Regions from separate parts of the Homo sapiens genome. Here regions 2, 3, 4, 5, 6 and 7 are each linked to region 1. Evidence: fine-mapped expression QTL. A gene starts in region 1. Each other region holds a variant in brackets. All regions are shown on one strand. Distances are between the middles of the regions.

The links. PIP is the estimated chance that this variant, and not a neighbour inherited with it, causes the effect.
Region 2: its variant is the best candidate, but not a certain one, in a credible set for the expression of CPQ in whole blood (TOPMed, PIP 0.80).
Region 3: its variant is the best candidate, but not a certain one, in a credible set for the expression of CPQ in skeletal muscle (GTEx, PIP 0.71).
Region 4: its variant is the best candidate, but not a certain one, in a credible set for the expression of CPQ in whole blood (TOPMed, PIP 0.70).
Region 5: its variant is the best candidate, but not a certain one, in a credible set for the expression of CPQ in whole blood (TOPMed, PIP 0.53).
Region 6: its variant is the best candidate, but not a certain one, in a credible set for the expression of CPQ in visceral fat (GTEx, PIP 0.89).
Region 7: its variant is the best candidate, but not a certain one, in a credible set for the expression of CPQ in whole blood (INTERVAL, PIP 0.70).

The regions. Positions count from the first base shown.
Region 1 is chr8:96,642,715-96,647,257 of GRCh38, reverse strand. CPQ (carboxypeptidase Q) reads right to left here and starts at 2,016. Exons shown (of 8, transcript NM_016134.4): 1 at 1,856-2,016. RefSeq lists a silencer at 1,592-2,141.
Region 2 is chr8:97,076,714-97,081,256 of GRCh38, reverse strand. All of the region lies in intron 7 of CPQ (carboxypeptidase Q), which reads right to left. The region is part of intron 2 of LOC101927066 (a long non-coding RNA gene); the gene reads left to right. Among named protein-coding and RNA genes, the nearest start is that of TSPYL5, 200 kb to the left of the region's middle. The variant T/G (reference allele first, on the strand shown) is at 1,807.
Region 3 is chr8:96,596,969-96,601,511 of GRCh38, reverse strand. All of the region lies in intron 2 of SDC2 (syndecan 2), which reads right to left. Among named protein-coding and RNA genes, the nearest start is that of CPQ, 46 kb to the left of the region's middle. The variant T/AT (reference allele first, on the strand shown) is at 1,970.
Region 4 is chr8:96,354,898-96,359,440 of GRCh38, reverse strand. No RefSeq gene overlaps it. Among named protein-coding and RNA genes, the nearest start is that of PTDSS1, 95 kb to the right of the region's middle. The variant C/A (reference allele first, on the strand shown) is at 2,255.
Region 5 is chr8:96,820,322-96,824,864 of GRCh38, reverse strand. All of the region lies in intron 2 of CPQ (carboxypeptidase Q), which reads right to left. Among named protein-coding and RNA genes, the nearest start is that of CPQ, 180 kb to the right of the region's middle. The variant A/G (reference allele first, on the strand shown) is at 2,460.
Region 6 is chr8:97,053,381-97,057,923 of GRCh38, reverse strand. The region is part of intron 6 of CPQ (carboxypeptidase Q); the gene reads right to left. All of the region lies in intron 2 of LOC101927066 (a long non-coding RNA gene), which reads left to right. Among named protein-coding and RNA genes, the nearest start is that of TSPYL5, 220 kb to the left of the region's middle. The variant G/A (reference allele first, on the strand shown) is at 2,004.
Region 7 is chr8:97,145,396-97,149,938 of GRCh38, reverse strand. All of the region lies in intron 2 of LOC101927066 (a long non-coding RNA gene), which reads left to right. Among named protein-coding and RNA genes, the nearest start is that of TSPYL5, 130 kb to the left of the region's middle. The variant G/T (reference allele first, on the strand shown) is at 1,871.

The sequences.
Region 1 (4,543 bases):
GAATTCACTGAAGTAGGTAACATTAATTTCATTTTACTTAACACATTTGGAACTTTGTGTTTGTTAAATGTAGCATGCAAAAATATTTAAATATGTATGTATAATGACTTTTGAAGTGCCTTTAAAAAATCTCCAAGGTCCTTCCAGCTCCAAAATGTGATCTATGATAACTAATCTCAAATGCATGCGAAGAAATAGTGATGCAGTTCCCCAGATATACTGGGAATATATGGCATTGTCAGACTGGGTTGCACTGGAAAAAAGTCAGACCCAGGACCAGGAGCCTGTGACAATGTAGAAGAAAATCTTACCCTCCTTTCTCCCCACCAGCCTAGGGTTTATTACACTTATCTTGAGCTCCCAGGCTTTCTTGTTGCAGATGTGGAGAAGAAAGGAAATGAGCTGTAAACAGCAAAGAAGAGAGCAGAGACAAAATGCTATGGGAGGTGAAGTAAGCAGAACTCCATGAAATCATCTGTAATTTCACCTTCTAACCCTGATACAAAAGAATCCCAGAGGTTTAACTCAGGCAGGGTTCCTAGCTAAACATCTTCATTTTGGAGATTAAGAAATTAAAACCTAAAGAGATCAAGTGGCAAGTCCAAGGTCATCCAGCTCTTCTGGAACCTGGACCTGGCAAGTAAGAACGGCTGCAGTGACCAACTGTATTAAAGCTATGTGCTAAGCCTATTTGTTTACAAACAGATAAGCGTCTTTCTGGGCCTTATGTAGCCTTCTTCAGTCACCTGCAAATCAGCCAGCACCTGTCTCAGGAAAACAGACAAGATTCTTAACAACTCTGAATTCAAAAGAAAAGCCTGGTTTTACAAACAAGTCAGAGTCATATGGTTCTGCCTTCAGAGTCACCCTTATCTTTAAGAAATACATGAAATAATATTATAGTGACAATGATTCTTTAAACGTCCAAAGTAGAAGTGAACAAAACACAAGCAAGAAAAAACCTAGGCATATTTTGTTTTAAGCAAACACATATAGCCAAGTCCAACAAAAATGGAAATACCAGGGGGCGTTTCCAGAGACCATTTGAACAGCATAGAACTCTTTTTAAGTGGTCCCAATCAGAATGCCTCCATTTGCAAAAGTGCGACATTCACACAACTTTTTGGAAAGCTATCAAAAAACAGGAGTTGTAAGCCTGCGTCTCCACTGCTTCCACTTCATACATCTTTATTTTCACTCATGCACTGATTGATTCAGCTGTATCTCGTATGCACTCATTTATTCACTTACTCATTTGTTAATTCACTCAGTTCTACGGCATAGGTACTCATTCAATTACTTATTGAGTAGCTCTGAGTCCTAAGTCAGATGGGACTTTGCCCTCATGGAACTTCGATTCTAGGAGAGTCCAGTAGCAGAAACTAGACGCATCAAAAGCGAAAGTACACGGTAAAATGCGAAAGGAACCCCAAAAGAACTGCATAAGGCATATTGGAGGCTCAGGGGGACCAGGATTGTTTGCAGATGGGGGATGAAGGGGGCGGCTTGGGGCTGAGCCCTGGAGCTGAGGGGAAGTGAAACCGTGTTGGGAAGGACGGCTGAGGGCCGTGCTCGCTGCTGTCCCGCAGCACCCTCCACCACCCCCACGTCACAGCTTCCCCATTTCTAGGCTCGGTGACTCCACTGTCACCGAAGGGGCAGCCACAGGCTCCCAACCCGCCGCTCCCCAGCCAGGTCCTCCCGTCACGCCCCCGAATGAGCGATGCTGGAAGTCCGTCCCCCTCTGCCCCCGCCCCTGGCCTGCTCCAGCCTCAGCCCGCCCGACCCCCGCGGGTAGGAGCCAAGGCCTCGGCCCAGCCGCCCGCGGGCACTGCCAGTTCGGCTGCAAACACACCTGATAGGGCGGCTCTGACGGCGGCGACGGAGGCGGCTCCCAGGACTAAGCTCGCGGCCTAGCCTTACGGTGGCGGCGGCCACACCCCTGACTGGGCTGGGGCCCTCCGCGCCGCCCCGTGACTGCAGCCCTGCTTGCCGGCCAGGCCGCGGGGCCGAGAGGCGGGGCAAAGACCTGACTCGGGAAGCCGGGGCGGGCGCCGGGTTCGGGCTGGGGGCCACCTCCGGAACGCCTGGGGGGTTCTCACTCGCCCTCCAAGGGCGACCTCAGGGCCACAGATCGGCCGGAAGGCTTCTCAGCTTCTGGGCTGTGGCTCCTGTTAGAAAATTGAGTGTCGCCCTGGGTCCCGAGCCCCTAGGCCTGACTCCTTCGTGCAGGGGCGTCGCCTTCAGACTGGGTGGTGCGCAGGCCAGGGCCGCGTGCTTTTCAGAAGCGCAGCCTCAGGCGAGGCGGGCGGCAGGGGCCTGAGAAGGCTCATGGCTTGGCAGAAGGGTCCTGTGCTTCAGTGGGTGCCCGTGCAGGTGGAGAAGGACGGGGCTGCGAAGCTGAAAGGAAAACGTGAAAGGTTTTTGTGTGTCTCTGAGCCTGAGTAAAGGCCATGCTTTCTGAGCTGTCAAACGCCTCCCAAAGGGAAGAGATTATTAAACCGTTTTCCCACCCTGCCAGGTGTAGGATTGTTAGGCGGTGATGATGGAAGGCAGAGATGACCCGAACTGAGAGATCAGAAAAAGCGTTTTCTCTTTCGTTTGTGCCTGAATTATATGAGGGTGCCCAAGAAGAAAGGAGACTCATCTGATTACCCGGTGTGGCTTATCTCAACAAGTCACACGCATTCTGGTCACAGAGTATGTGCTCAGTGTTTTCAATGCTTTATGTTTTGATAAGTGCAAATTCCTTTGTTTAACGAAACTCTTATCAAATACAAACAGTTATCTTTGTGAAACACTGAGCAGTTCCAGTCTCTCCTCTTAACTAAAAAAACCAAACAGAACTTTTAATTAGAAAAGAAAAGAAAGAATAAGCACATGCCTACTGGGAAAAAAAAAATACCATAAAATGTGCAAAGTCCACTCACCTTCGGTTAACAGTCCCTCTAAACCTTACTAGTCCTGTTGCCCACTGAAACAAGTGTGAACTCTGAGGCATTGGAGGGTCCACATAAACATGGCCCTGGCCCACCTTTCCCGAATCATCTCTCGGATGCCATATCTAACCCCACTGAATTACTTTTTTCTCAAACTATCAAGGGTAAAAGACAAGTTTTTATTATTTCCAATCTGACATGGACCATTATTTCTGTAAAATACAAATCAAAACCTGCTAGCAAATAAGAAAAGAGACAAAAACTACAAGCCCAGTTTTTATTACAAGTGTACAATGAGTATGCCAAAAAGTATAAAATTAGTTTTTCAATTATTGGTTGTTGTTGTTGTTTTTATTTCTAAATGCTTACTCACAATTTCTATACTTACCTGTTCATGGAGCAGTAAAAAGCTGTTCACTGACTGGCGGTGGTTGGATTACCGTTTAAGTGGCACTGACTTGCTGTTCTTTAATTATGTCAAATGCTTTTCAACTTCTGGGCCTTTTCTCATGTTTAATGTGAACGAAGTTCTTTCCCACTCAAGTTTCAACTCGTAATAACAATAAAAGCTTCACATTTATTGAGTGCCTTGTGCTAAGATTTTTGATGCATTAACTGTGAATTCTTATTTGTCCTATGAGCTACCTATTATTATCATTATTATTTCCCCCCACTGTACAGATAAGGAGATGGAGGATTAGAGAGGTCAAGTCACAAAACCAGTGAGGTACAAAGTCAGCATTAAACTGAGCTGGCCTGATTCTGGAGCCCAAGCAATCAACCAACATGCTGGGCCCCTCTCTGTGAAACCTCCCCCATTTGCTTTCAAGTTGAAATTAATCACTCTTGCTTACACCTCTACTCTAACATTTTTTCCCGTTGGTTTTCATTCATGTCAGCTTCCCACGCTAGGCTTTAAGCTTCTGAGTACAGTGAATTTGTCTGCTCACACTAATCACAGGAAGCAGAGCTCATTCGCATCTTTGCATTACCACTATCTTTTATGCTTACTTCATGATATGTTTTAATTATTTATTCTTGTCAGCATCCTCTACTAAACCATACAATGTTCAGAGTTATCTTACCAAAGATGCTTTTATTTATTTAATTGAATAAGCATTTCTATAGCATGTATAATGAGCCAGGTACTATTCCAAGAATTTTAAAACCTCGCAAATAGACCTATAGATATTATTTTATCCCTCTTTAAACTGTGAGGAAACTAAGGCATAGAGAGGTTGCAGTAAGTTGCAGGACCAGAATTCCAAACCAAGCAACCTGCCTGGCTCCAGAATCTATTTCTGAGCCACCATGCTATGTTGATTTTCCACAATACCATGTGTTCTTCCTACTTAGAACACTTCACTGCAGGGAGATCAATCCATAATGGCCAATTAGAAGCCCCTGCCCGCAGCACTCAGGGAGGAATGAGAAGGGGCAAGTGAATTCAGTACCTTCAACTGAAATATCCAGGTTCTCTCATTGGGACTGACTAGGCAAACCACCGGCCCATGGAGAATGAAGAAAAGTTGGGCAGGGTGGGGAGCCCACCTCGGAGCAGCACAGAGCCAAAGGAACCTCCACCCTCAGCCAAGGGAAGTGGT
Region 2 (4,543 bases), 430 kb before region 1:
CCCATCTAAATAAACAATGGCTTTATTTCTGCAGTGCACTTCGCAGTATAGTGCTAAAGGTATTAAACAATATCTGTGTGTAACTTCATTTTTAAAAGTTTTTCAAACATGATATTTATAATAATCAATGAACTATTTCTGTAAAAATGTAGATTTTATAAAGATGTATCCAGCAAACATTTTTCTCTTAGGTTTAAACTTCCAAAAATGAGTATTGGTGAAGTCCACGCTATGTTTCTACATAAGATACTATTCTCTTACATGACAGTAAACTATTCAAGCTATTACAAAAAATACATGTATAGAAGGAAGGAAGGAAGGAAAGAAGGAAGGAAGGAAGGAAAGAAGGGTGGGTACTAAGAATACTGAGGACACACTTCATATCTCGTCCTATGATAGGCAACGGATCACTCAGGTCTCAAAAGATGCATAACTAATAGATTTCACAGAGCTCGACCATATTTGATTTATAGATTATGAACTGGAAAGAATTAAGACAGCAAATGTCATATTTTAAAAGTAAGTTTAGTTATCATGAATTATGCAATCTCATACATTCTTATAAAAAAATGGAATAAAGGGGACACTTAATTCACTGTGTTAAAAGTCCCCATGAGGGGGATATGTAAGAATGTTAGGTTAGGTGGCCACTTCTGAACTTTAATACTGAGCAAAGGGAAGAGTTTAAGCTAATGAAATTATCCAAACTAGGCAGTTTATTGTATAACATTAGATATAACTTATTTTTATAGTAAAAAGTCCTACCCAATTTTAACTCAGTTTTACCAAAATCTCTTTAATTGTGATGTTTTTCCTGTGATTTCTAGAATCCTATAATTGATTAAATTGATAAGCATATTTTTTAGCAAAGCTCTTATAAGAAATCAGTGAAATGTTACTCTAAGACTGAAATGTCACTCTAAGACTTATTTGACTCCAAGTTTCAACGAGCAGATTAAGTATGTCTAATTAGAGTCAGACTTTATTTGCTCACATCTGAGACTTCAGAAAACCACTGCCAATCGCAATGCAATGCTATGTGGGGCTACTCCATCTCTCTTCAACTGGAAGACTTAATTTGGCAAAACTTCCAGTAGCAAAACATCGAAGAAAATGCAACTTTTCTAGGAAATTGCTAGAAGACATGCAGTCAATCAGCAAGACTTGTGGATCTATGAGGGTGGGTTTTGTCTGGAGTCCTTCCAAGGAGAAGGATCTGGGTTAGCCGGAGCCTGCCCAGTGGCTAGGATTGTGCCCTAGCATATTTCACTCCTGCTCAAACCTTCAAAAGTTTCTAGCTGTCCTGAATCCTCAGAATGACCTTCAGATCCCAACTGAGATTCCAGGCAACGCTTTTAGTTTTCTATTTCCCTATATTAACTAAACTTTGGTCCAACCCGACTGGTTATCATTTTAAATACCCCTCACATTTTCTTACCTACAGAATGTTGCTCATCTCCAATTTTTGACATGGGATGCATTCCCTCTACATCCAGCACATTTTATTATTTCCTGATAATCAGGTGAAATGCCACCTCTTTGTGAGGCCCCGGCAGTTTAATACCTTTCTTTTGGCCTGAACTCCTATTGTACTCTGTTCTTCTTGGGTCTCAACCCTCCATTAACTCCTTAAGGACAGGGACTGCATCTTATATGTGACACGGGAGTAAAACAGACTGTATATGTTAATTCTAGCTTCTCTACTTAATATCTTTATGACTTTGGGCAAAGGAAACTCCCTGATTCCCAACTGCCTCATTTGAAAATTGGTCACATAATAATAATTTATACTTCAAAATGTTCTTA[T/G]GAAATTATGAGATAAGTAAAGCATCTATCATAATTTTGACACATAGTAAACAACAAATATATGTTAAATTCTCTCCTTAAGCCTCTTTTCCAATTGCTTCATAGCATTTACTTGGGTTTCTTAAATGAATGAGTGAATGAAATTGTGAAATTGAGTCAGGTCTAAGAAGAAAGAACAGGCAATAGTATCCTGAGGATCTAACTATGACACTCCAAGGTAATTCATAAATCATATAATGATTCCTACTCATATTCTCTTCCCCACATTATAAAGAAAAATTAGAAAATAAGCATTTAAACATTTTAGAAATCAATAGTGGAGGTTTTAAAACAAAAATAATAAAAATGGCCAGGTGCAGTGGCTCCTGCCTATAATCTCAGCACTTTGGGCAGCCGAGGTGGGAGGACTGCTTGAGCCCAGGAATTCAAGACCAGCCTAAGCAACATAGTGAGACCTCATCTCTAAAAATAAAAATTTTAAAAAAATTAGCTGGGCACAATGGCGCCAGCCTGTAGTCCTAGCTACTCGGGAGGCTGAGGTGGGAAGATTGCTTGAGCACAGGAGTTTGAGGTTGCAGTGAGCTATGAATGTACTTTTGCACTCCAGCCTGGGTGAGATCCCATCTCTAAAAAAGGAGAGAGGGAGAGAGAGAGAGAGAGAGAGAGAGAGAGAGAGAGAGAGAGAGAAATGGAAATGATATCATATTTAGAGTAATATGCATCATAGGTTAACAGAAATTTGTACATCTCTAGTAGAATATACATACTAAAAACAAAAAGAACTACAGAAAACTCTTTTCAATAGTTATACTGTTGGTGATCGTGTTGATACTGTTTTTCTGAGACTACTGGGTGTGTATTGTGGGATAAAGCAAATGAGTGATTATGTTGTTCCACTGAGAGCCAGGATTGTAGGCAGGGGAAAAAGAAAATGCAGATGTAACATCAGTGAGGTAAAGTGCAATTTTATAGTCCTCAACTTAAATTGGAAATATCATATAATTAGTAATATAATTTCATGTTGGAGAAAAAAAGTGTTTCCTAGTCCTGTCTGCTGAAAAGACCTAGAAACAATGAACAATCCAGTAGCAACACACACACTTACTGTTCAGACTGTGGCCTCTAAATACTATGACCTAGGAAAATAAATTGGATTCTTTGAAGAGATAGCTGATTTCAGATCTAGGGCAGGACATGTACAAGATAGCCTGAAACAATTTGTCCTATCAGAAAGCCAGGATGATATCAACAACTATGAGGGTCATGTCAAAAGGACTCAGAACCAGTTTAAAGATGTTTCAATTGGCCAAAGATGGGACAATTTGAGCATCAATAAAATAGCTACTACAATGGAATGAAACACATCAAATATTTTTAAATCCATCAGTTAATAATGACACAAAAAATAAATAAATCATCTTTGGGTGATACTAGTAAACAAACTGATGGTTTAAAAATAGGTAAATAAAGAGAAAGAATGAGGCATTTATCCTACCTTCTTATACAAAAGTATCTCAGAGTAACTGAATAGCTGATAAGGGGAAAGTTCTGTTTGCATAGATTTATTTAAATTAATAAAGAAGGAATTACATGATTAGACTGTACCATTCAGAATATACTGAAATTAAATCTAGTTGGCCTTTGAACAACATGAGTTTGAAGTGTGTGGATCCACTTTTTCAAATATTTTTTTCCACAAATTTTTTGGAGATTTGTGACAATTTAAAAAAATTCTACAATGAACCACATAGTCTGGAAATATCAAAATAATTAAGAAAAAGGTATGTTATGAATGCATAAATATATGTGGATGCTAGTTTATTTTAGCATTTACTACCACAAAGTATACACAGATCTATTATAAAAAGTTAAAATTTGTCAAAACATATGCACATAAACACAGATTGTACATGGCTCCCTTTGCAGATGAGAGAAATGTAAACAAATGTAAAGATGTAGTATTAAATCATAACTGCAGAACATTATCTGTAGTACATACTGTACTACTGTAGTAATTTCATAGCTACCTCCTGTTGCTATTGTGGTGAGCTCAAGTGTTGCCAGTATCTGGTAAAATGCTGCGGATGCTAATCACCTCTATGTGAGCAGTTCATCTCTCCAGTAAATTGCATATCACAGGAAGAAGTGATGGCTCTCACATACTTTTCATCACATTTAGTGTAATACTGTAGACCTTGACTAACACCATAGGACTCATACAATGTGCAACTAGTGATGTTGGAAGTGCTCCCAAGAAGCAGGGAAAAGTCGTGACTTTACAAGAAAAAGTTGAATTGCTTGATATGTACCACAGATTGAGGTGTGCCACCGTGGTTGCCATTTCAGAAAATTCATCTTGTAAACAGATGGTATTGATAAATAGAGTACGGTACTATAAATGTATCTCTTCCTTATGCTTTTCTTAACAGTTTTCTCTTCTCTAGCTTACTTTATTATAAGAATACAGTATATAATACATTTACAAAATATGTGTTAATTGACTATGTTATCATAAAGACTTCTGATCAACAGTAGCTCATTAGTAGTTAAGTTTTTGGGGAGTCAAAAGTTATATGCAGATTTTTGTGTGCAGGGCTCAGCACCCCTAAACTCCCTGTTGTTCAAGGGTCAACTTCAAATGTATCTAGGCTGCTAATGTCATAAAAAGGGAGATAATTAGACATTATGCCTATGAAAACAAGCAGCAACATCTAGAAAGCATTTTAGCCCACTCCCT
Region 3 (4,543 bases), 46 kb after region 1:
ATGCTACGACACCCAGCTAATTTTTTGTATTTTTAGTAGAGATGGGGTTTCACCATGTTGGCCAGGATGGTCTGGATCTCTTGACCTTGTGATCCACCTGCTTCAGCCTCCCAAAGTTCTGGGATTACAGGCGTGAGCCACCGTGCCTGGCCCTCTCCTGGTTTTACAGGCAGATTTTTCCAGTGGGGGTGGATACTCACTAGGTCTTGTCCTCATCATCTTCTCCACTCTGCATTCTACTCCCTCCAGGAGCATTTTCCCTGTCATCACTATTAATACTGTTTTGTTAAGGTCACCAGTATCCACAGCACCCAATGGCACTCTTCAGAATCGCCTTCCTCTAGTAGAAGAACTTCCTAGCACCACTGCACACTGTCAAGTGCCATCTGCTTCCGGACAAACCCTATTTCTTTGGGTTCCTAAGAGTTCCTGGCTTCCCCCTCACCTCTCTGGCTATTCTAAGTTTCCTTTGCTGGTTTATCCTCCTCTACCTCAACATCAAATATCAAAGAGTATCTGAAGGTCTGTCCCTAGGCCTCTTCTTCCTCTACACTTTCTCCCTCATCCATGTCCACAATGTCAATAAATGATGAGTTAAGCACAGATGATACCTAAATTTACATCATCGGCTTTTACCACCCCTCTCAAAGTCACATATCCAGTGGCCTTCCTGGCATTTTCACTTGAATGACTCAAAGGTACAACACACCTCTGAACATGTCCAAACCAGAACTCATGGTCCCTTTGTCTTCTCCTCCTGTGACCTTGCAGTGACTGAAGCCCTCTGTTCCTACACACCAGAACTCTGACTTCCTCTTCCTTACCTTGTTTTTGAATCCATTATCCAGTCCTATCAATCTTATCTTCTTATTATCCCTCCACTCTTAACACCGTTCTACAGTTCCAGGGCCACCACTCCAATCCAAGCCACTGTGACCTTTCCATGAAACACTGTACCTGCCTTCTTCCTAATAGGCCCCTGAGTGCCTAACATAGTGTCTAAGACATAACAGGCTCTGATCTGGTATTTGTTCAACAAGTGACTTTCTACCTGAGCATGATTTTTGTTTGTTGTTGTTGCCTTTTCACTAGAATAGCATTTGAGAATTTCTGACATTCAAATACAACATTCCTTTTAAGTTGATCATTTGTCAAATTTGTAACAACTCAAACAAACTCCAACTCTGTAACTCAAACTAACCAGGCTTCCTCGGACAACACATTGATAAATACCTCTAAATTCCTCAAACAAAAGAAAATGGGTATTTTCCACAGAATCGCATCAATGTAATAAGCAGGTGGGAAAGCAACACATGCTGGAAACATGTGCAATGGCCATGGTTCACTTCTTTCTTTTTCTTTTCTTGCTCTGTCACCCAGGCCAGAGTGCAGGGGTGCGATCATGGCTCACTGTAGCTTCAAACTTGCGGGCTCAAGCAATCCTCTCACCTCAGCCTCCTGAGTAGCTGGAACTAAATATATGTGCCACTGTGCCCAGCTAATATTAAAAAAAAAATTATTATTATTTTTTGTTGTTGAGACGGGGTCTCAACTATGTTGCCAGGTTGGTCTCGAGCTCCTGAGCTCAAGGGATCCTCCTGCCTGGGTCTCCCAAAGTGTTGAGATTATAGGTATGAGGCACTGTGCCCGGCTCCTGGCCGGTTCATTTCTTAATTTATCAACTGTCTCCTTTAATTTCAAAACATATATATTCATTATTATACAGAAGAAATGGCAGGGCATGTTGGAATAAATACAGGGTTTGGTATTAAGAAAGCAAACAAACCTAGTACTGGTTCTGGCATTTATTAGCTCTGTACTCTTAGGCAAGTAATACTTGAGTCTTGGTTTCTTCATTTGTAAAATGGGGCTAATAATAACTAACCCACGAAGGTACATATATATCACAGATACATATCTAACAGACATGATACATATTTAAAGCATTCTATATAAACTGTTACGTAAA[T/AT]ATAGGTCATTAATAATGATGGGTCCAGAAATATAATGCTGTTTTATCAGGTGACCTAATTATCTATCAACATTTTACATATAATATGCTTAATTTGTTCCTACAATGAATCATTTTCTTACAAAGAATAAAACTTCAATGAGAAATGAAAAATTTCAGTCTAGGGCTTTTAAAGACCCTCTTGTTTCACAAGAGTTACCAATATGAGTCATCAACCTAGAAGTGGGATGAATCTGTATGAGGGAAGAGATTTGTAACGTAGAAAATCCCCCTTAAGCTGGCACTTTTAAAGTTAAAGACAGGGCCAAGCACAGTAGCTCGCGCCTGCAATCCTAGCACTTTGGGAGGCCGAGGCCGGTGGGTCACGAGGTCAGGAGATCAAGACCATCTTGGCTAACATGGTGAAACCCCATCCCTACTAAAAATAAAAAGAATTAGCCAGGTGTGGTGGTGGGCGCCTGTAGTCCCAGCTACTTGGGAGGCTCAAGCAGGAGAATCACTTGAACCTGGGAGGAGGAGGTTGCAGTGAGCTGGGATACCACCACTGCACTCCAGCCTGGGCAACAGAGTGAGGCTCTGTCTCAAAAAAAAAAAAAAAAAAAGATAGAGACAGATGGGCAATCTGTCTCAGATGGCTCTGCTGCTTTTAATATCTTTATTAAAAACATTAACTCTTTTGCTCAAACCAGAAATCTCGAAGCCCCACTGAATATCTCCTCCTTCAGGTCCTACTGTTCTCCCTGTCTGAAATAGACTACTCCAAGGCCTGTTTCCCTCTGGGAAACTCCTGCTCTCACTATCAAGTACAGCATCAATATCACCCCCTCTCTGAAGCCTTCCTTGATCTCTCCACCAGGGCACCGGTTCTGTCTCTATGTTCCCATGCTCATTCTCTTATTTTTTTTTGTTATTTATTTATTTATTTTGAGATGGAATTTTGCTCGTCACCCAGACTGGAGTGCAATAGTGCAATCACAGCTCACTGCAACCTCCGCCTCCCGAGTTCAAGCGATTCTCCTGACTCAGCCTCCCAAGTAGCTGGGATTACAGGCATGCGCCACCACGCCTGGCTGATTTTTGTATTTTTATTAGAGATGGGGTTTCGCCATGTCAGGCTGTTCTCGAACTCCTGACCTCGAGTGATCCACCTACCTCAGCCTCCCAAACTGCTGGGATTACAGGCGTAACCCACCACACCCAGCCTTATTTTCTTTTTTAAAAATAACATTTTCTTTTACTTATGGTATGAATGTGTCTCCCCAAAATCCATGTGTTAAAACCTAATCTCCAATGCAATAGTATTAAGAAGAGGGACTTCAGGAGATGAGCAGGTCATGGGGGCAGGGCCCTCATGGAATGGAATTAGTGCCCTTCGGAAAGAGGCTTGAGGGACACTGTTTGTCCCCTTTGCCATGTGAGGATGCAGCAGGAAGGCACCATCTAAAAAGTAGTCAGAAAGCCCTCACCAGACACCAAATCTGCTGTGCCTTGATCTTTGACTTCCCAGCCTCCAGAACTGAGACCAATAAATTTATAAATTACCCAGTCTAAAGTATTTTGCTATAGCAACCTGAATGGACTTAGACAACTTATAAAAATAATACTTTTTAAAATACATTTGCATGTATGAATTTGGAAACACAGAAGGAATAAATACAATTAGCCTATCGCCAGAGAAAACATTGTTAGATTTTATTTACTGAAGTGTCCCTAGAACCTAGAATGGTGCCTGTTCTCCCATGTACTAAGTGATTAAGAAATACTTCCTCAATGAATGAATATCCTCTGTGTCTTCTCACCTTCCAAATGAGCTTTTCATTTTTGACACGACAGTCCCACACTCTTAAGAACTCTTATGTCTCAGAACATTCCTGTTTTATAGTATCCTGTTTTTGTGCCATTGTTCGAGCATCTGCTTTTCTCTCTGAATTTACTATGTTTTTCTGTGAATTTTTTTCTTCCTGTAAGTGGCTGTCCTCTCCCAATTTGGGGGTTTCTCTTTCTCTCATGTTACAAGTTTTTCCTAAATATCTGGGGAGCCTTGGTTGCCTGTTTATATTGAAGAGGGAAACACCGAAAAGAGGACTAGAAGCTTTGAGCACACAGGAGAGGTGTGTCAAATGTAGGCAACATCCCCTCGACTGAAATTTTTCATTTCTCATTGAAGTTTTATTCTTTGTAATACAGAGCTGTACGTTTCACTGGAGAGCTCCCATGCCACTCTCTTTGAATTGGTCCAGCTTCCCAGAGGGGAGCCTCCCAGTCCCCTACCCAGAGGGTAAATGGACAGACTGCCAGTGTTCTGGGAACTGACTGGGAGAAGACAAGACAACTTGGGATCACACCATATTAAATTATTCTTAATCTAAGAACTTATTTTCTCTGTCTTACATAAGGTACCCCCAGCCCCATCTGTTCCTGAAATACCCCCGGGTTCTGTTTTACCCTCTCCAGATAATAAATCTCCAGGTTTCCCTCTGAGGGCAGGGAACATGAGCCCCTTTGCTACATGACAGAGGAAAGGAACCAGGGGATCTATTTCTTAAACAGACTTCCAGCCAATCATCCTGAGTT
Region 4 (4,543 bases), 290 kb after region 1:
CCATACTGCAAGATCTAAATTGGTCTTGGAACGGAGAACACAAGGAAGGGCCAAGGGACCAGCTGGGCAAGGAATCAGCTCATTAGTAGCCTCTATGGAGGTGTTGAAATTGAGCAAGTTAAAAGCATATTAGTTTAAATGAGACTTTTCACAAATGAGGGGAAGTGTTTAGGTAGGAAGCAGATGTAATCATTTTGTGATGGGGCATAATTTGATAATTAATGGAGAAGTTGTCAGTATAATCTTGAGGGAGCCCCAGGAAATGAAGAAATCTGTCTTTATTAAGGGAAACTCAGGAGAAAAAGTTATTGGAAATGCAAGTGATTCACCAGCAAGGTCCTGGTGGCAAGTCGTTATTAGATGTGCATGTTGGGACCGTCTTTCTGCCACATCTGTGTGTTTTGTCTTGATTCACCAGGCCCACTACCTCTCCTAATGGGAATGCAGAGAATAGAGAACATTGAAGGCGGTTGTGAAGCAAACCCAGGCTTCTTTCTTCCGTGCAGACGGGCTGGCCAGCGTCTGCTATGCTTAGCAGGAAAGCAGGGAGAGACAAGCCTAACTGGCTCCCTGGGGGCCAGCCAGATTTTGACTCCCTAAAGCCTGTGCAGCCAGGGTTCAGTTTCCCAGGGAGATGCTAGGAGTGTGCTTCCATGGAATATGTGAGCCCATGGAAGAGCAAGCCCAGGGAAGCACAATCCTAGTATCCCACTGGGAAAAGAGGCTGGGTGGACTCCCACTTGGCCAGAACAGGAGTCCAGGAGAAAAACCCCACAAGGGTGCCTATGCACAGTGATTAAGGCACGGGCTCTGGAGCCAGAATGCCTAGGCTCAGCTCTCCACTTGGCCACAATTTCTCTTGACATTAAGTGTGCTATTCAAGGTCTCTGTGCTTCAATTTCCTGGTGCCTATCTCATAGGGCCAAGGATGGGAAGAGTAATTCTATGTAAAGGACCCACAGCAGTGCCTGGTGCTGAAGGTCTGCTCAACAAGTGTAGTTAGCATTTGCCGTTAACTACTAGCCATGTATGGCATTTGAGCACTGGAAATGCAGCCAGTCTTGGTTGATATGTGCTGTAGGTGTAAAATGGACATAGAATTCAGACTTTGTGCAAGAAAGAGAATATAAAATATCTCATTGATAATTTTTATATTGATTACATATTGAAATGATAGTATTTTGAATATATTGAGTTAAATAAATACATGTTATGAAAATTAGTATTGCCCGCTCTTCTTTTCTTATTATAGTAAAAAACACTAACATAAAATTTACCCTCTTAACCACTTTTAAGTGTACAGTTCAGTAGTGTTAAATATGTTCACATTGTGGTGAAACAGATCTCCAGAACTTCTTCATCCTGCAACTCTGAAACTCTATACCCATTAAAAAACTCCCCATATGCCTCTCTCTTCAGCTCTGGCAACCAACATTCCACTTCTTGTTTCTAGGAATTTAGATATTTTAGATACCTCATATAAGTGGAATCATACAGTATTTGTCTTTTTGTGACTGACTTCTTTCACTTACCATAATGTCCGCAAGCTTCAGCCATGTCATATCATGTGATAGGATTTACTTTCTTTTTAAGGCTGAGTAATATTCCATCCTTTTTTTTTTAGGGTGACTATTAGAAAATGTAAAATGTATTTGTGGTTCCTATTATATTTCTACTGGATAGTGCTAGTTTAGAACTAGCGGTTCTCAACCTCATCAGTTCCAACCCCTCCTTACCACAATGAATTTGTAACACTCTCTTCACTCTCCTGAAATAAACTGTATAGATAAAATAACTCATATGCACACATAATTTTTAAAAAAGAACAATATAATAACCTAACTGTAAGTATATAGAATAAATGAAAGGAATCTATAGAGAAAAAATATATTTTAATTTACTGTTAGACATGACCACTTAATACAAAATAATCAGATGCTTCAATGAATATGTAAAATCACCACTAATGGGATAGGTATCAATGCAGAGTAGTAACTCAAATTTTAGGAGTGATGTTGCCAGCAGAAACATGATGTCCTGAAATGAAACAGCTCAGTAAAATTCCAACAAAACAAAGTACAATTTTCTCTCTATTTATATGGTTACATTCTTACAAAAATGCATGTAAATTTAAATGAAGTAAAATATATAGGTATATATGGAAACTGTAATTAGGTTCTGGGCTAAGAGACTTCAAAATAGATTTTTCACCTAAATGAAAGCCCAATGAGATATTTACAAATCAAGAGGACCC[C/A]AGAGAAATTTTTCACTTTGCAGAGCTGCCCTGTGCATTGCAGAACATCTTGTTTCCCTGTGTCACTGTATATCTATCGAAGGCCTATACCATCCTTCAACCACTGGGACAATCAAAAGCATCCCCTCTATTTTCCAGTGCTCTCCCATGGAGGCAGCAGAGCCTCCACTGAGAAGCAGCGATACTGAATTGTGAGAAACACAGTGTGGTGATCCCAAAGGTTCACTGTTCAGGAGCTGCTCGGCTTTTCTGCCCGGTGGTCTCATCCATCCGCGGTTCCCACCATGGCTTTCAGTAACTCAACGTGAGGGGAGTCCTCTGGTCCAGCAGTAACCACTCTCCAGCACAGACCAGAAGGCTAGATGCTGAAGTTTCTCCAGAACTTCAAATACAACAGACTCAGCCCTTTTCCCTGTAAACCCATGCCTTTCCTTGACATCTTAGTTTCACTGTCACCAGTGTTTTCTCCAACCCCACCCCGACCCTTACATAAGGCAGAATCACCAAAGCCTCTTCTCTCTTTGCTCATGGCCTCCCATTTCCCCTGCTTCCAGCTTCCCTGCCTCTCCCTTGGATCTGCAGGTTTCTCAGTGGCCCCTCATTGCTCTTCCTCACTCTAGTCTGCCACCGCCACTCCATCCTGTTCATCACAGCCCATGAAAACTGGGAAGCATGAGGTCAGCATTCAGTTCTTTGCAGTCAGGCCCAATGTTCCTTTACAGTCCTCCAGAAGTCTCCACCAAGAGCTCTTCCCTTTCATCTGAGTGAGAGGCAGCATAGCCTAGTGGACAAACTCAGGCTAGGATCAGCAAGAGCTATCCTGTATTGACCTAGCCCTGCACAGTCATGAGCTGCTGAATGATGGGATATGTTCTGAGAAATGTGTCTTTAGGCGATTTTGCCATTGTGCGAAACATCATAGAGTGAATGTATACAAACTTGGGTGGTATAGCCTACTACACACCCAGGCCATGTGGAATAGCCTATGGCTCCTACGCTAAAAGCCTGTACAGCATGTTATCATACTGAATGCTATAGACAACTACAACACAATGGTAAGTGTTTGTGTATCTAAGCACACCTACACATAGAAAAGGTGCAGTAAAAATATGGGATAAAAATGTTTTAATGGTACATCTGTATAGGGCAGCTCCATTATAATCTTATGGGACCACCATTGTATATGCGGTCTGTCACGGACTGAAATATGGGTTTCTTTTTTTCTTTTCCTTTTTTTAGAGACAGGGTCTCGCCCTGTCACCCAGGCTGGAGTGGAGTGGTATGATCACAGCTCACTGTAGCCTTGAACTCCTGGGCTCAAGCCATCTTCCCACCGCAGCCTCCCCAGGTAGCTGGGACTATTAGGCATGAGCCACCATGCCCGGCTAATTTTTTTTTCTGTAGCGATGAGGTCTTGCTATATTACCCAGGCTGGTCTCAGACTCCTTGGGCTTCAAGTGATCCTCCTGCCTCCACCTCCCAAAGCTCTGTGGTTACAGGCGTGAGCCAGTGCGCCCGCCCTGAAACATGAGTTCCTATCCAAACTTCACTCCTTATTAGCTGCCTCTGGGTAAATGAGTTAGCCTCTATGTACCTCCTTCTTCCTCTATAAAATAGGCTTCACCATATGTGCTCTGTGGTGCTGTTATAGATAATTAAGAATGTGCTTGTAAGACACCAAGGACTAGGCTGGCTTGTAGGAGAAACAGCCACTGCTGGGTCCCTAGACCATGTTTTCTCTTCTTCAGCATTGTTCCTTCTCTCTACACATTGAGCCAAATATTTGCACAAATTTCCTGTCATCTCAGTCAGACAGTTATCCCATAACAGACCATAAGGGGAGCTAAGACCTCATTTCACTAGATATGGACTAAGACAAAAAAATATGTATTTACTAGAAAACAAAAACAGCACTTTCGGTGGACTGTAAAGTTCCCGAGGGCCATGAGAAGTAATAACTGATGGGCACTGAGCCAGCAGGTAACTGACTGTACAGCTCTGGTTTTGCGGGTGGGGTGGATGTGTTTGGGAACTGCAGAGGCCATAGAGACTGTCCGCCCTGGCCCCTCAGTCCTGCATGCCCTCTGCACTCAGCCTCAGTCTCTCTAGCAGGTGAAATTCAAGCAAAGATTTTTAACACATCAATTTGAAGGAGTGTCCGATGCATGCCAGCCCTGGGTGCCTAGTGTCTTCTCCTGGATATGGCTGCATCAATGCTCAGGCTGTCATTCACAACTCCAGGGCCCACCTGGTCTGGGAAGCTTTTCCCATTTTGTCACTCCCTGGCCA
Region 5 (4,543 bases), 180 kb before region 1:
TAGCAGGGCAAAGAGCCTCCTGGGCCATTTATCCCCAACCACTGAAATCAACAAAATGAATAGGAAGTTTTTAATAAGCTTTTGATGAGCTACCAATTAAGAAAACCAGGCATCCATTTAACAACAGTAATAATTTATTAATCCACACCAGAAACTTAGGCACATACGCTATGGTAATAGAAATATTATTGCTATAGGAGCTCGTAGCTTGATTCATTCCCAAGGATCCATGTGGACCATTTGTAATCCCCGAGCCATATTTAAAACCACTATTCTATCTATACAATTTTGTCATGGAGTCCAAAACTTTAAACATTTGCAGAATTTCCATTGGATTGTAGGGTAAGGATTTCAAATATTTAAATAAAAAAATGATGTGTGTATAGATTCAATATAAATTCAAGTGCTAAAAGGTGATAATTCTTCAATTTAAAAGACTTGAGTGAAAATAATGATATCAGAAATAGCTATTGTATGTGTACTCTGGCCAGGAACCATGCAAAGATCTTAACATGTATTATTTAATGTAATCCTTATGTCCCTATATGATAGGTATTACTGCCACCCATCGGTAAATATATTGACATGAAAGCTGAGACTTGACCTAGGTCACATAGTGTGGTTGGTAGTACATCTAAAATTCAAACACAGACCTATCTGATGGAGATCTATTTCTAACAGAAAGAGATGGAGAGAGAGCAACAGTACTTCTGGTCATTGAATCCTCATCTGATTATTCATCCATACATTTTATCTACAAGATGCCTAAATACTAAACATAAAAAATTTAGAGGCCATCTCCACTAAGAGTTTTAGCACATTATCTTACACAGCACAATGCATTTACTAGCTGCCATGTAGATTAGAATATGAAGACATAGAATGATTGTTGCTGAGTGGTCCTTAAATGTATATTTTAATCTTTCCCTCTTTGTTTAACCTAGAACAAAAGTTAAAGTAAAACTGTCTTATCAAGCAGATTTATCTGACAGTCACTTCAGGAAAGATTTAATTAAAATAATAATAATAACGAACTAGCATTTCTATAGGTCTTACAATATGCCAGGCACTGCTCTAAATGTTTTACTTACATTAACTCAGTGGATTCTCTCGACAGCCCTATAATGTAGGCACTTTTATCACCTTCATTAAATATAAAATACTTTATTTATTTATACTTGTGTTTTACTTATTTCCTGACTTATTACCAAAGGAATTTGAAGAGACTTGCAAAATTACATTGAAGAAAATAAAAAGAAAGGAAGAAGGTAAAGAAAGAAAGGAAGAAAGTATAGTAAAATAAAATAACGCTACAGATAATATTATCAGAAAAAATATCCATCATAGGATTTGTGTAGTTGCTGGAGAGGACCATAAATTTAGCTACAAACTTCCTGGCAAACAAATCAAAAAGCAAAACATAATCAGGCAGAAGATTCACAATGTCCATAATAGGAAAACAAGCCAGTTGCTTAAGAGTAGCACAAATTTCCCATAAGAAAGTTATTTGCCTACAAGAAAATTATATAATTAAAAATGCCATGTGATACAATAATGTACAAAAGTCCATTTCTACCATGAGTATAAAATGTGGAATGTAACTCCTCTTCATCCCTCCATTTCCATTTTCTCCCTCTCCCTTAGTAATAACAGTTTTAATTTTGCTGGGAAGATGACTGTCTAGAGTTTTAAAAAGACCCCATTTTCTAGCTTCCCTGTAGCTAGATGTGGCCATGTTACTTAAAGGGGGTGGCATGTCTTTATCCTGGTCACTCAAATGCAGATGGAAGAAGCCATCCTGGATGACGAGGTAGGCTTGGAAAGGAACATCTGGACAGTGGAATCTGGGTTGCTAACACTCTGGTGCATAGTTATCTATAATTTCATATGACAGAGAAAGAAACTTCTATGGTGTGTAAGCAACTATTGTTTTGGGTTTTCTATTATTTTTAGCTAACTGAAGAATGAGGGGGACAGAAAACTTCTTTGTATTAGGTGATCAGGGAAGACTTCTCTGAGGAGATATTTAAGCTGAAAAACTGAAGGATTTTATGCTAACGAACTATGGACAAGAAGAATGGAGACAAGAATACTCATTGCAGAGGTCACTGTACCTACAAAAGCCTCTAGGCAGGAAAACCTTCACAAGAAGCTGAAAGAGGATTTTTGTGGCTGGAGTGCAGTGAGAAAGGGCAAAGAGAAACATGAGACAAAATCTGACAAAAAGGCAGGAACCATATCATGCAGGACCTCCTGGGCCATGGTGAAGAGTTAGAATTTGTGTTGGCAGGGATAAGTAGAAAAGGGAATCCTTGTACACTGTTGAAGAGAATGTAAATTGAGAATGCCATTATGAAAAACAGTGTAGAGGCTCCTCAAAAAATTAAAAATAGAGCTAAAAAATTAAAAATAGGGCTACCATATGACCCAGCAATCCCACTACTGGGTACACATATCCA[A/G]AGAATATGAAATCAGTATGTCAAAGAGATACCTGCACTCCTATGTTCATTACAACATTATTGACAATACCCAAGATATGGAATCAACCTAAGTGTCCATCAGTGAATGAATGGATAAAGGAAATGTGGTATATAGGCACAATGGAATTACTATTCGGCCTTACCAAAAAAAGAAATATTGTCATTTGCAACAACTTGGATGAACTTGAAGGCCATTATGTTAAGTAAAATAGGCCAGGCACACAAAGAAAAATGCCATCTGAGCTTACTTATACGTGGAATCTAGAAAACTCAAATTCATAGAAACAGAGAGTAAAATAATGATTACCAGAGATGAGGGAATGTAGAGATTGGGAAGAAGTTGGTCAAAGGACACAAATTTTCAGTTAGAAAAAGTTCAAGAGATATGTTGTACATCATGCTGACTATAGTTAATAACAATAGATTGTATACTTGAAAATTGCTAAGAGGATAGATTCTAAGTGTTATCACCACAAAAAAATGTTAAGTATGTGAGGTAATGGATATGCCTGATTTGGCCATTACACAGTGTACATACATATCAAAACATCACACTTGTACAGTACAAATCATATAATTTTTACTTGTCTAATTAAAAATTAATTTTTAAAACTGTAAAACCCAAGAGCTGAAAAATGAAAAAAGAAAGGAGAGAGAATTTATTTATTAGTCAATGAAAGAACAGTGTCTGGCAAATAGGAGGGGTCTTCAAGAAGTTCATGAAAAATGTGTATTATAAAAAAATAGATTTCAACTTTTTTGCATCAAAATAAACTCATACTAATTTATTATAACATATCTGAACAGAATCTAGTTTGAGGCACTAAGAAGGATAAGACATCAGTTTTAAAAGAGCCCCTATCAAAAACTGGATAGCTATATGCAAAAGAATGAAATTGGACCTCTATTTCCCACTATACACAAAAATCAAATCAAAATGGATAAAATATTTCAATAGAAGTCCTAAAACAATGAAACCACTAGAATAAAACTTTGGAGAAATGTCCCAGAACATTGGTCTGGGCAAATATTTTTTGTTTAAGACCTGAAAAGCACAGGCAACCCAAGCAAAAATATATAATTGGGATTATATCAACCTAAAAAGCTTCTGCACAGCAAACAATCGACAAAGTGAAAAGACAACACACAGAATGAGAGAAAATATTTGCAAACTATCCATCTGACAAGGGATTAATAACCAGAACATATAAGGAGTTCAAACAACTCAATAGCAAAAAAAAAAAAAAAAAAAAAAAAATTCAGATTAAATATTGGGCAAAAGGTTTGAACAGACATTTCTCAAAAGACATACAAATGGCCAAGAAGTACATGAAAAAAATGCTCAATATCCCTAATCATCAGAGAAATGCAAATGAAAACCACAATGAGACAGCATCTCACCACACACAATAACAGATGCTGGTGAGGATGTGGAGAAAGGGGAACCTTCATACACTGTTGGTGGGAATGCAAATTAGTACAGCCTAATGTACAGTATGAAGGTTCCTCAAAAAACTAAAAGTAGAACCACCATATGATCCAGTAATTCTACTACTTGGTATATATCAAAAAGAAAGGAAATCAATACATCAAAGAGATATCTGCACTCCCGTGTTTATTTCAGCACTGCTAACAATAGTGAAAATACGGAATCAAGCTAAGTACCCATCAACAGATGAATGAAGAAAGAAAACGCCATATATATACACAATGAAATATCATTCAGCCATAAAAATGAATGAAATCCTGTCATTTGCAGCAACATAGATGGAATTGAAGACCATTATGTTAAGTGAAAAAGTCCAAGCACAGAAAGACAAATATCATATAGTCTCACTCACATGTGGGAGCTAAAAAAGTAGATCTCATAAAGATAGAGATTGGTAGTTATCAGAGGCCAGGAAGGGGAGAGGGGAGAAGAGTCAAAGAAACAAATAGAATATAAATGCATTTATTACCACTGAACTACACACTTAAAAAAGATAAAGATGGTAAATTATATATGTATATTTTAGTACAATAAAAAATATTTTTTTGAAAAAGAGCCCCCATCAGTGCAACAT
Region 6 (4,543 bases), 410 kb before region 1:
CTCCTTGGTCTGCTCAAGTGACTTCATGCCCTACTTCTGCCCAAGCCTTCTGTGACTACCGTCCATACCCCTCCCTAATTTGTTGGCCTATTGCACTTCATTCAATTTTTTTTAAATGCCTGCCTTGCTCCTGCAAAAATTTAAGGCTCTCTACAAGAAAATGTCCAAATACTGTACTAAAAGAGTAGGTAAATGTGCTAGAACCAAGAAAATGCCATGAACACAGGAATCACGTGTGTGGATCTCTGCCATATCTCTAGATTAAATAACAGAACTAAGCACATAGTAGGTGAACAATAAATGTTTAAGGCAAAGGAAAAGTCACAATTTGGAACATTTTGACACAGCCTTAAAAGCAACTTGAGGATATAATTTAGCTCTAGCTTGTGGCTGCCAATGTGAGAGCGTGATTGATGTATTACTGAGCTCTCATTATCTAGGAAGAGAAAGTGCACCACCATCTCCTTGAAAAAAGCAATATTTTTTTCTAGCGCTCAGTTCTAAGGGGAGTAATTACATGGCTCTTTATATGAGGAACGCTGGACAAAATAATGGACACAGTCTCCAATAACAGTTTTACAAAAGATGCAGAAACACTTTTCCTAACACTATTTCTTACATATTGATCCTCAATTAAAGCCAAAAGCAAAATATTAAGTCACATTTCAGTAAATGTGTTTTTTCAGGAAGCAAAATGTATTTATTCAACAGTTATTTTGACGTAAACTTGAGTGATAGGGTGACTATACATTTTTGTTTGCCCTAGGAAGTCCCAGTTTACATCCCCTGTCTTGGTGTTAATTAACAGAGCCTCCTTTCTCTTGCAGACATTTCCTGGTTTTAATAATAAATCATATTTCCAACCTACATATGAGGGTATCTATATATGAAGATGACTAAGATAGGGTTGCTTTCCTAAAGGAGGGGAGAGTTTACCAGCAGAGGCAATAACTGGCTAATACATTAAATGTGATGAGTTCTATGAATATGTACAAAGAAGGGAAAGCAACTACTGAAAAATGTTGGCAAAAGCTTGATAAAAGAGGTGATGTTTGGCCTCAGCAAATACCCTAGACTGAAAGTGTTCCCATGAGAGCAGGGATCTTGTTAGTTCATCAGCATATTCTCAGAACCTAGCTAACGGGCACTTGAAAATACTTGTCAAATGAACAGATGACTTTATTCTAAGCATCCAACTAATGTCCAGAATGTAGCTTTCCAAGAGAGGATCAGAGCTTAGGCAATCTCTAAAAGGATAAATATAAGCATGTTCTGTAGAGTATCTCACTCTCAAACATTGGTTGTCCCTCCTAGAATTTTTGTAGGCATTAGCAAAAAATTTAAAGTGGAAACCATTAGTGAGCACCAAATTTCAAACCTGTGATGGAGCTGCACTTGACATTTGTTTACTCCTGGAAATGCATTCTTGCCTTGGCTTCTGGAACCTCAGACTCTTGGCTCTTTTTATGCTTTACTGGATGATCCTTCTCATTTTTCTTGGCTGGTTTTCTCATCCTCCTGACCAATAGAAATTGGGGTGCTCAGAAACAGACTAAAGGCCTCTTCTTTTCTCTATCACACTTACTGTGTTGGAACCCTTATTTAGGCTCATGGTTTTAAATAAATCTGTATGGTGATGAGTTCCAAATTCATATTTTCATGCATCTCCTGAATTCTACACTCATATCCCACAGCTACTCAGTACCTCCACTTAGATGTCTAATTGTGTATTAGTTTCCTATTGCTGCTGTCACAAATTACCACAAAGTCACTGACTTGAACAACACAATTTGTGTGTGTGTGTGTGTGTGTGTGTGTGTGTTTTGAGATAGGGTCTCACTCTGTCACCAAGCCTGGAGTGCAGTGGCATGATCTTGGCTCACTGCAGCTTTGGCTTCCCAGGCTCAAGCAATCCTCCCACCTCAGTCTCCTGAGTAGCTGGGACTACAGGTGCACCACCACGCCCAGCTAATTTTTTTGTGTTTTTATAGAGGAAAAGTCTC[G/A]CCAGGTTGCCCAGGCTGGTCTTGAACTTTTGGGCTCAGGTGATCCACCCACTTTGGCCTCCTAAAGTGCTAGGATTATAGGCATGAGCCACTGTGCCCGGCCTAAAAATTTATTCTCTAACAGTTCTGGAGGTTGTAAGTCTGAAATAAGCCTTACAGGGCTAAAATCAAGGTGCTGGTAGAGTTGGTTTCTTCTGGAACTCCTCTCTTGCTTGTACACCCAAAATGCAATCTATCAACAAATCTTGTTGGCTCTATTTTCAACATAGACTTACTCTCCGACAACTTCCCATCAGTTTCCCTGTTCTGACTCAGTCCAAGCGACCACCAGCCTTCACGTGGAGTACTGCAGTAGCATCCTGTCTCCGTTTCAGCCCTTGCCTTCCTTCAGCCTATTTAGAAAATGGGAGAAATGATCTTGGTCAGGGAGAATCTGAAGGTGAGAGTTGAGTTATTATTTATTTGGCTTTATGACTAAAGAAGCCTCAAGTTGTCTACAGAATATGGACTTGAACCTCAAAAGGCTGAAAAAGTTAGCCACAAAACCATCTCTATCCAATTACATCAGCTGACTTATTGAAGGAAAGGTGGTGCAACCAATGGCTTTAGGAACTGGTGGCAACAATAGCCCTGGAGAAAGGAGAGAGGGGAGTGAGACATCAGGAGGAGGAAGAAAACAGTTCAGAGAGACTGATTCCAGTGAGGATCATGATGATGTGATAAAGGAGGCTTGTGGAGAATCCAGACCCTAGGACCAGGGGATCTTCAAGATGAAGAGACAGAGCCTCTAAGGGCACTATATTCCCTGGAGAGCAAAACCAACAATCACAGCATTGAAAACATAGAAGCTGAGCTTCCATTGGACAGGGGGACAGGGGTGTTGTGAGAGGGTAACTATTATTTTCCATTCAGATGGAGCATTTATATGAAGAAAACTCCATGCCTATGGCTATCTGTAGACTTCCCCCCTGAACTCTATACTTAAAACATTTTGTTATTTCAATAACTTTAGGGGTACAGTGGTTTTTTGGTCACATGGATGCACTGTATAGCAGTGAAGCCTGGGATTTTAGTGCACCCGTAACCCGAATAGTATACATTATACCCAATAGGTAGTTTTTCATCCTTCATTCACCTGCCATTCTCCCCCTTTCTAAGTCTCCAGTGTCCATTATACCACCCTGTTTGTCTTTGCATACCCATGGCTTAGCTCCAACTTATAAGTGAGGACATGTGGTATTTGGTTTTCCATTCCTGAATTACTTCACTTAGAATAATGGCCTCCAGTTCCATCCAAGTTGCTGCAGAAGATATTATTTCACTCTTTTATGGCTGAGTGGTATTCCGTGGTATGTATGTAACACATTTTCTTTATCCACTTATCTATTGATGGACAGTTAGGTTTATTCCATATCTTTGCAATTGTGAACCATGCTGTGATAAATGTACATGTGCAGGTGTCTTTTTGATATAATGACTTCTTTTCCTTTGGGCAGATACCTAGTAGTGGGATTGCTGGATAGAATGGTAGATATACTTTTAGTTCTTTGAGGAATCTCCATACTGTTTTCCATAGAGGCTATACTAATTTACGTTCCCACCAGCAGTGTATGAGTTCCCTTTTCACCACATCCACGACAACATCTATTGTTTTCTGATTTTTTAATAATGGCCATTCTCCCAGGGGTAAGGTGGTATCTCATTGTGGTTTTTATTTGCATTTCCCTGATGATTAGTGATGTTGAACATTTTTTCATATGTTTGTTGGCCATTTGTATATCTTCTTTTGAGAAATGTCAATTCATTGAACTCTATACTTTTTACCAAACTGCCTACTTGACCTCTCCACATGAAAGTCTGATATCTCAAACTTAACAGGTTCAAACCCATACTCCTTATCTCCCCCTTTTCCCCCTGCCTAACTCCCCTCATTTCAGTTGTTTGGGCCCCAAACTGTCAGTTTATGCTTGACTCCTCTATTTCTCTCATACTCCATATGCAATCCACCATCAGATTCTGTTCGCTCCTTCCTTAAAATATTATCTGCAGCCTGACAACTTGCTATGCCTTCCACAGCTATCATCTTGTTCCAAACTACACTCTTGTCTTGCCTAGGCTATTATCTTTCTTCCATTCTGGTTCCCCTTTAGTCTGTTCTCAACCAAGCAGCCAGAATGATTATTTTAGAAAGTTGATTCAGATCATGTTTCTCCTATGCTCAAAAGCCTCCCATAGTTCCAACCTCACTCAGAGAAAATGGCCCATGGGGCTTGACTCTGCCTGGGCTTCTTTATATTGACTTCTTGTCCTACTGCTTTCCTTTCACTGCTCCATTTCAAGCACATTGGCTTCCTCCCTATCCCCTGAATGTCAAGCATGGCCTCCAGCAGCACCTTTGGAACAACTCTCCATCTTCGCTAGAATGCTCTCCTCCAGGTATCCACGTGGCTCTCCTCTTCATCCTTTCAGGTCTTAACCAAATATTACCACCTCCATAAAGTCTGCCTTGTTCCCCTCTATCAAAAATTAAAACAGCCCCC
Region 7 (4,543 bases), 500 kb before region 1:
TGGTCTTAAAAACTCCTGACCTCAAGCGATCCGCCCACCTCAGCCTCCTAAAGTACTGGGATTACAGGCATGAGCCAAGGCGCCTGGCCAGAAAATTTAACTTTCATATTTAACTTAGCAAAGCCTAAAGTTAGACAATATCTTTATCCTGTTCTAGAGCAATACAAATGAACTCACAGAAAAAGGCTATCTGGAACCCACAGAAGGGGCCAACTAGGTCAGGAGAAGGAAGGGGATGTTGGTCGCACTTAGAATACTCACCAGACCAGTTTAAAGATGACTTCCAGAAACTATTTCTACATGACAGTTAGGCCCAGGCACGATGGGTCAACAGTGCCTCACTGGCAGGACAGCTGCAGAGGGACATCAGCAGAGACCCTCAGTTCTGGAGAAATAAGTGGCCGTCAGAGCTCACCTCCAGGTCAGTCGGACCTGTGGGGAACCAATGAACTGCAAGCAGGCACCCACAAGGGTGGATCCCATATGAGCTCCTAAATTTATTCTTTCTGCCCACTGCACAGACAAAATCAATTGCCTGAGACCATGGCATTGCAGTAAAGAAAGAGTTTAACTGACATGAGGCCAGCTATGCAGAAGAACTGGAGTTATCACTCAAATCAGTCTCCCTGAAGGGTCAGAGGTTAGGGTTTTTATGGACAGTTTTGTGGGCAGGGGACTAGGGAATGGGTGCAGCTGATTGGTTGGGAATGCCATCACATCACTGGAAGACTGTCCTTGTGCAGTGAGGCCACCTGTGGGCAGAGCCACAGGACCAGCTGAGTCATGAGTCCAGATGGGATCAGTCTGAAAAACATCTAAAAAAAAAAAAACTCCCCAGTCTTAGGTTCTACAACAGTGATACCTATAGAAGCAATTGGGGAAGTTATAAATCTTGGGACCTCTGGCCACATGACTCCTGAGCAGTAAGAAATTATAGAAACTATGCCTACATTTTAGCAGAACTTGGGCCTCTCCCATAATCCTAATCTTGTGGCCTTTCATTAGTCTTACAAAGGCAGTTTCAGCCATTGAACAGGGAGAGGGTTAGTTTCAGGGAGGGACTATTATCATTCTTGCTTCTAAGTTAAACTGTAAACTAAATTCCTCTCAAAGTTATCTTGGCCTATGTCCAGGAATGACCAAGGACAGCTTGGGGTTAGAAGTAAGATGGAGTCAACTAGGTCAGATTTTTCTTACTGTTATAATTTTGCAAAGGCAGTTTCAAAAGGACCTTAGAACACTAATTCCAGTAACTTCACGTCTTATTCACATGCTATTCCAGTGAAATATATTCTTTCCATCTTGTTTTCTTTTCAAATACCACCTTATTATTGTGGTTTTTATTTATTCTATGTTTGTTTAAAACGGTTATCACTTTCTTTGCTCTTAATTTCTGTCCAGTGGCCAGGATTAGGTGGTCAGTCAGAACAATAAGCCAAACTGAAAGTTAACAATCAAGCCTTAATCACTTACAGAAATAGTGTAAACAAGAGGCAAAAATAAGCACCAGCTTCCTAACATTCCATTTTTTCCCCAGGGAATGGCAGTAGGCAAGGGTCAGATGAATCAGCTCAGACAGGGAAAATCATCTCACTACCAAAGAGCCCTGAACAAATGACTCCTGACATTTTATGGTCCAGGGGACTGACAGAAGGGAGTAGGGGAAGTCTAGGACTAGAAAAGTACTGGGTCAGAGTGGATGAAAGTATCTTGGTCATAAGATAAGGAGGCCTTGAATGGAGGTGTTTGGGTGAGGAATGGGTGGCTGCCCTAGGCGGCCTGAGTCCTTGACTGCAGCTCCTTCTGGAAAACTGTAACCCACTGGCAGAGCACTAAGTCAGCTGTGGGGAGGTGTATTAGTCTGTTTTCA[G/T]GCTGCTGATAAAGACATACCTGAAACTGGGTAATGTATAAGGAAAAGGAGGTTTAATAGACTCACAGTTCCACATGGCTGGGGAGGCCTCATAATCACAGCAGAAGGTGAAAGGCACGTCTCACATGGTGGCAGACAAATGAGAGCTTGTGCAGGGAAGCTCCCCTTTATAAAACCATCAGATCTCATGAGACTTATTCACTATCATGAGAACAGCACAGGAAAGACCTGCCCCCATGATTAAATTACCTCCCACCAGGTCCCTCCCACAACACATGGGAATTGAGGATGACATTTGGGTGGGGACACAATCAAACCACATCAAGGGGGCAGCTTTCTCCCAGTAGCGCCTGCCAGGCAAAGCCTTTGTAATGCCTAAAGTCAGGCCTGGAAAGTCACATACAGATTTTGATTTTGGCCTGGAGCCAATCTCCTCACTTCTTGTATATTAGTGTCCACTCTATAATCATTTAATTTTGCCTAAAGGACACTTTTTCTAATTTCCTGTAGTGAAGACCTGCTGGTAGTAAACTCTTTCACTTTTTTTTTTTTTTTTTTCTGAGACAGAGTCTCACTCTGTTGCCCAGACTGGAGTGCAGTGACATGATCTTGGCTCGCTGCAACCTCTGCCTCCCAGGTTCAAGCGATTCTCCTGCCTCAGCCCCCTAGTAGCTGGGATTACAGGCACGTGCCACTATACCCAGCTAATTTTTGTATTTTTTTTTAGTAGAGATGGGGTTTTGCCATGTTGGCTTGGCTGGTCTTGAACTCCTGACCTCAGGTGATCCACCCGCCTCACCCTCCAAAGTGCTGGAATTACAGGCATGAGCCACCATGGCTGGCCAACTCTTTCACTTTTTAATCTGAAAAATATCCTTACTTTGTCCTTGTTTTCAAAAGATATTTTCCCTGAGCACAGAGTTGTTAGGTTGATAATTGTTGTCTCTCAGCATGTGGAAGATCTTCTGGCTTGCATTGTTGCTGTTAAGAAGTTAGCTAAAAGTCCAATTGTTGCTTTTTTCAAGATAGTCCATCTCTTCTCTCTTACTTCAAAGAGCTTCTTTTGTCTCTTCTGGTCTGTAGTTTCTCTAAAATATGTCTTTTTATTTATTCTGTCTGGGATTCACTGGGTTTCTTGATTTTGTGTATCTAAATTCTGGAAAATTTTGATTTATTATGTCTTCAGATAATTCTTTGTCCCATTTTCTTTTTTCTGAAACCCTGATTAAACACATTAGACAATATAACTCTATCCTTCATATTTCTTAACCTTTCATTTATATTTTCCATTCTTTGTCTTTCTGTGCTAAATTCTCATAAATTTCATCACTATTGTCTTGCAGTTTACTAACTCTCATTAAATTGGTTAAATTTGTCCCCGAATTTTAAAATTTCACTGAGTATAATTTATATTCCCTAAAGTTCTATTTGGTTCTTTCTACAATATGCTTGGTCATTTTTTTTTATGGTCCCATGCTCTCTATTCTACTTTCAAACTCTTCTTTGACTTCCTTGAAATAATGGACATAGCTTAAATAATTTTAACCAAAAAATTCCAATATCAGAGGACACTGTGGGTTAATTCTTGATCTTTTTTTGTTTGCTCTTGCTCAGAATGCTGTGATTCTTTTTTTCCCCTTTTTGTTGTGAGTTAATATTTTATCTAACTTTATAAGTGGGAATTTCTTCAGACCCTCTACTTAGCTTTTACTCAATCATGGTAACTTTCCTTGCAGACCTGAGAGTTATTTTTGTTCACCACTGTATTGAGGTATAATATTTTGGGGTCTCATTTTTGTTGGAGTTCTATAGTATCCTTAATGTGGCAGAATCTGGAATTTGTCTACAATCTCCTGATCTCTGAATGGAATTTAAGTTTACCACATTCCTTAAACTTTCTCAAAGAGAAAGCTTGTTCAATGTTTTATGTATCTCCAAATGACCAACAAACTTATAAAAACATGCTCAACATCACTAATTATCAAGAAAATGCAAATCGAAACCACAATGAGATACCACCTTACTGCAGTCAGAATGGCCATTATTATTATTTTTGAGACAGGGTCTTGCTGTCACCCAGGCTGGAGTGCAGTGGCATGATCACAGGTCACTGCAACCTTGACCTCCTGGGCTCAAGAGATCCTCCCACCTCAGCTTCCCAAGTAGCTGGGACCACAGATGCATGCCACCATGCCTGGCTAATTTATTTTTATGTTTATTTTTTGTACAGTAAAGGTCTCACAATATTGTCCAGGCTAGTCTTGAACTCCTGAACTGAAGCAATCCTCCTGCATTCCAAAAGTTCTGGGATTACAGGCACGAGCCACCATGCCTGGCCCCAGAATGCCCATTATTATAAAGTCAAAAAACAATAGATGTTGACTGGATGTGGTAAGAAGGGACTGCTTATACACTATTGGTGGGAATGTAAATTAGTACAACCTCTACGGAAAACAGTATAGAGATTTCCCAAAGAACCAAAAGTATATCTACCATGCTATCCAACAACCCCATTACTGGGTATCTACCCAAAGGAAAATAAGTCATTATATCAAAAGACACTGGCATACATATGTTTATCGCAACACAATTCACAGTTGAATAGGTATAGAACCAATCTAACTGCCCATCAAGTGATGAGTGGATGAAGAAAATGTGGTATATATACACCAT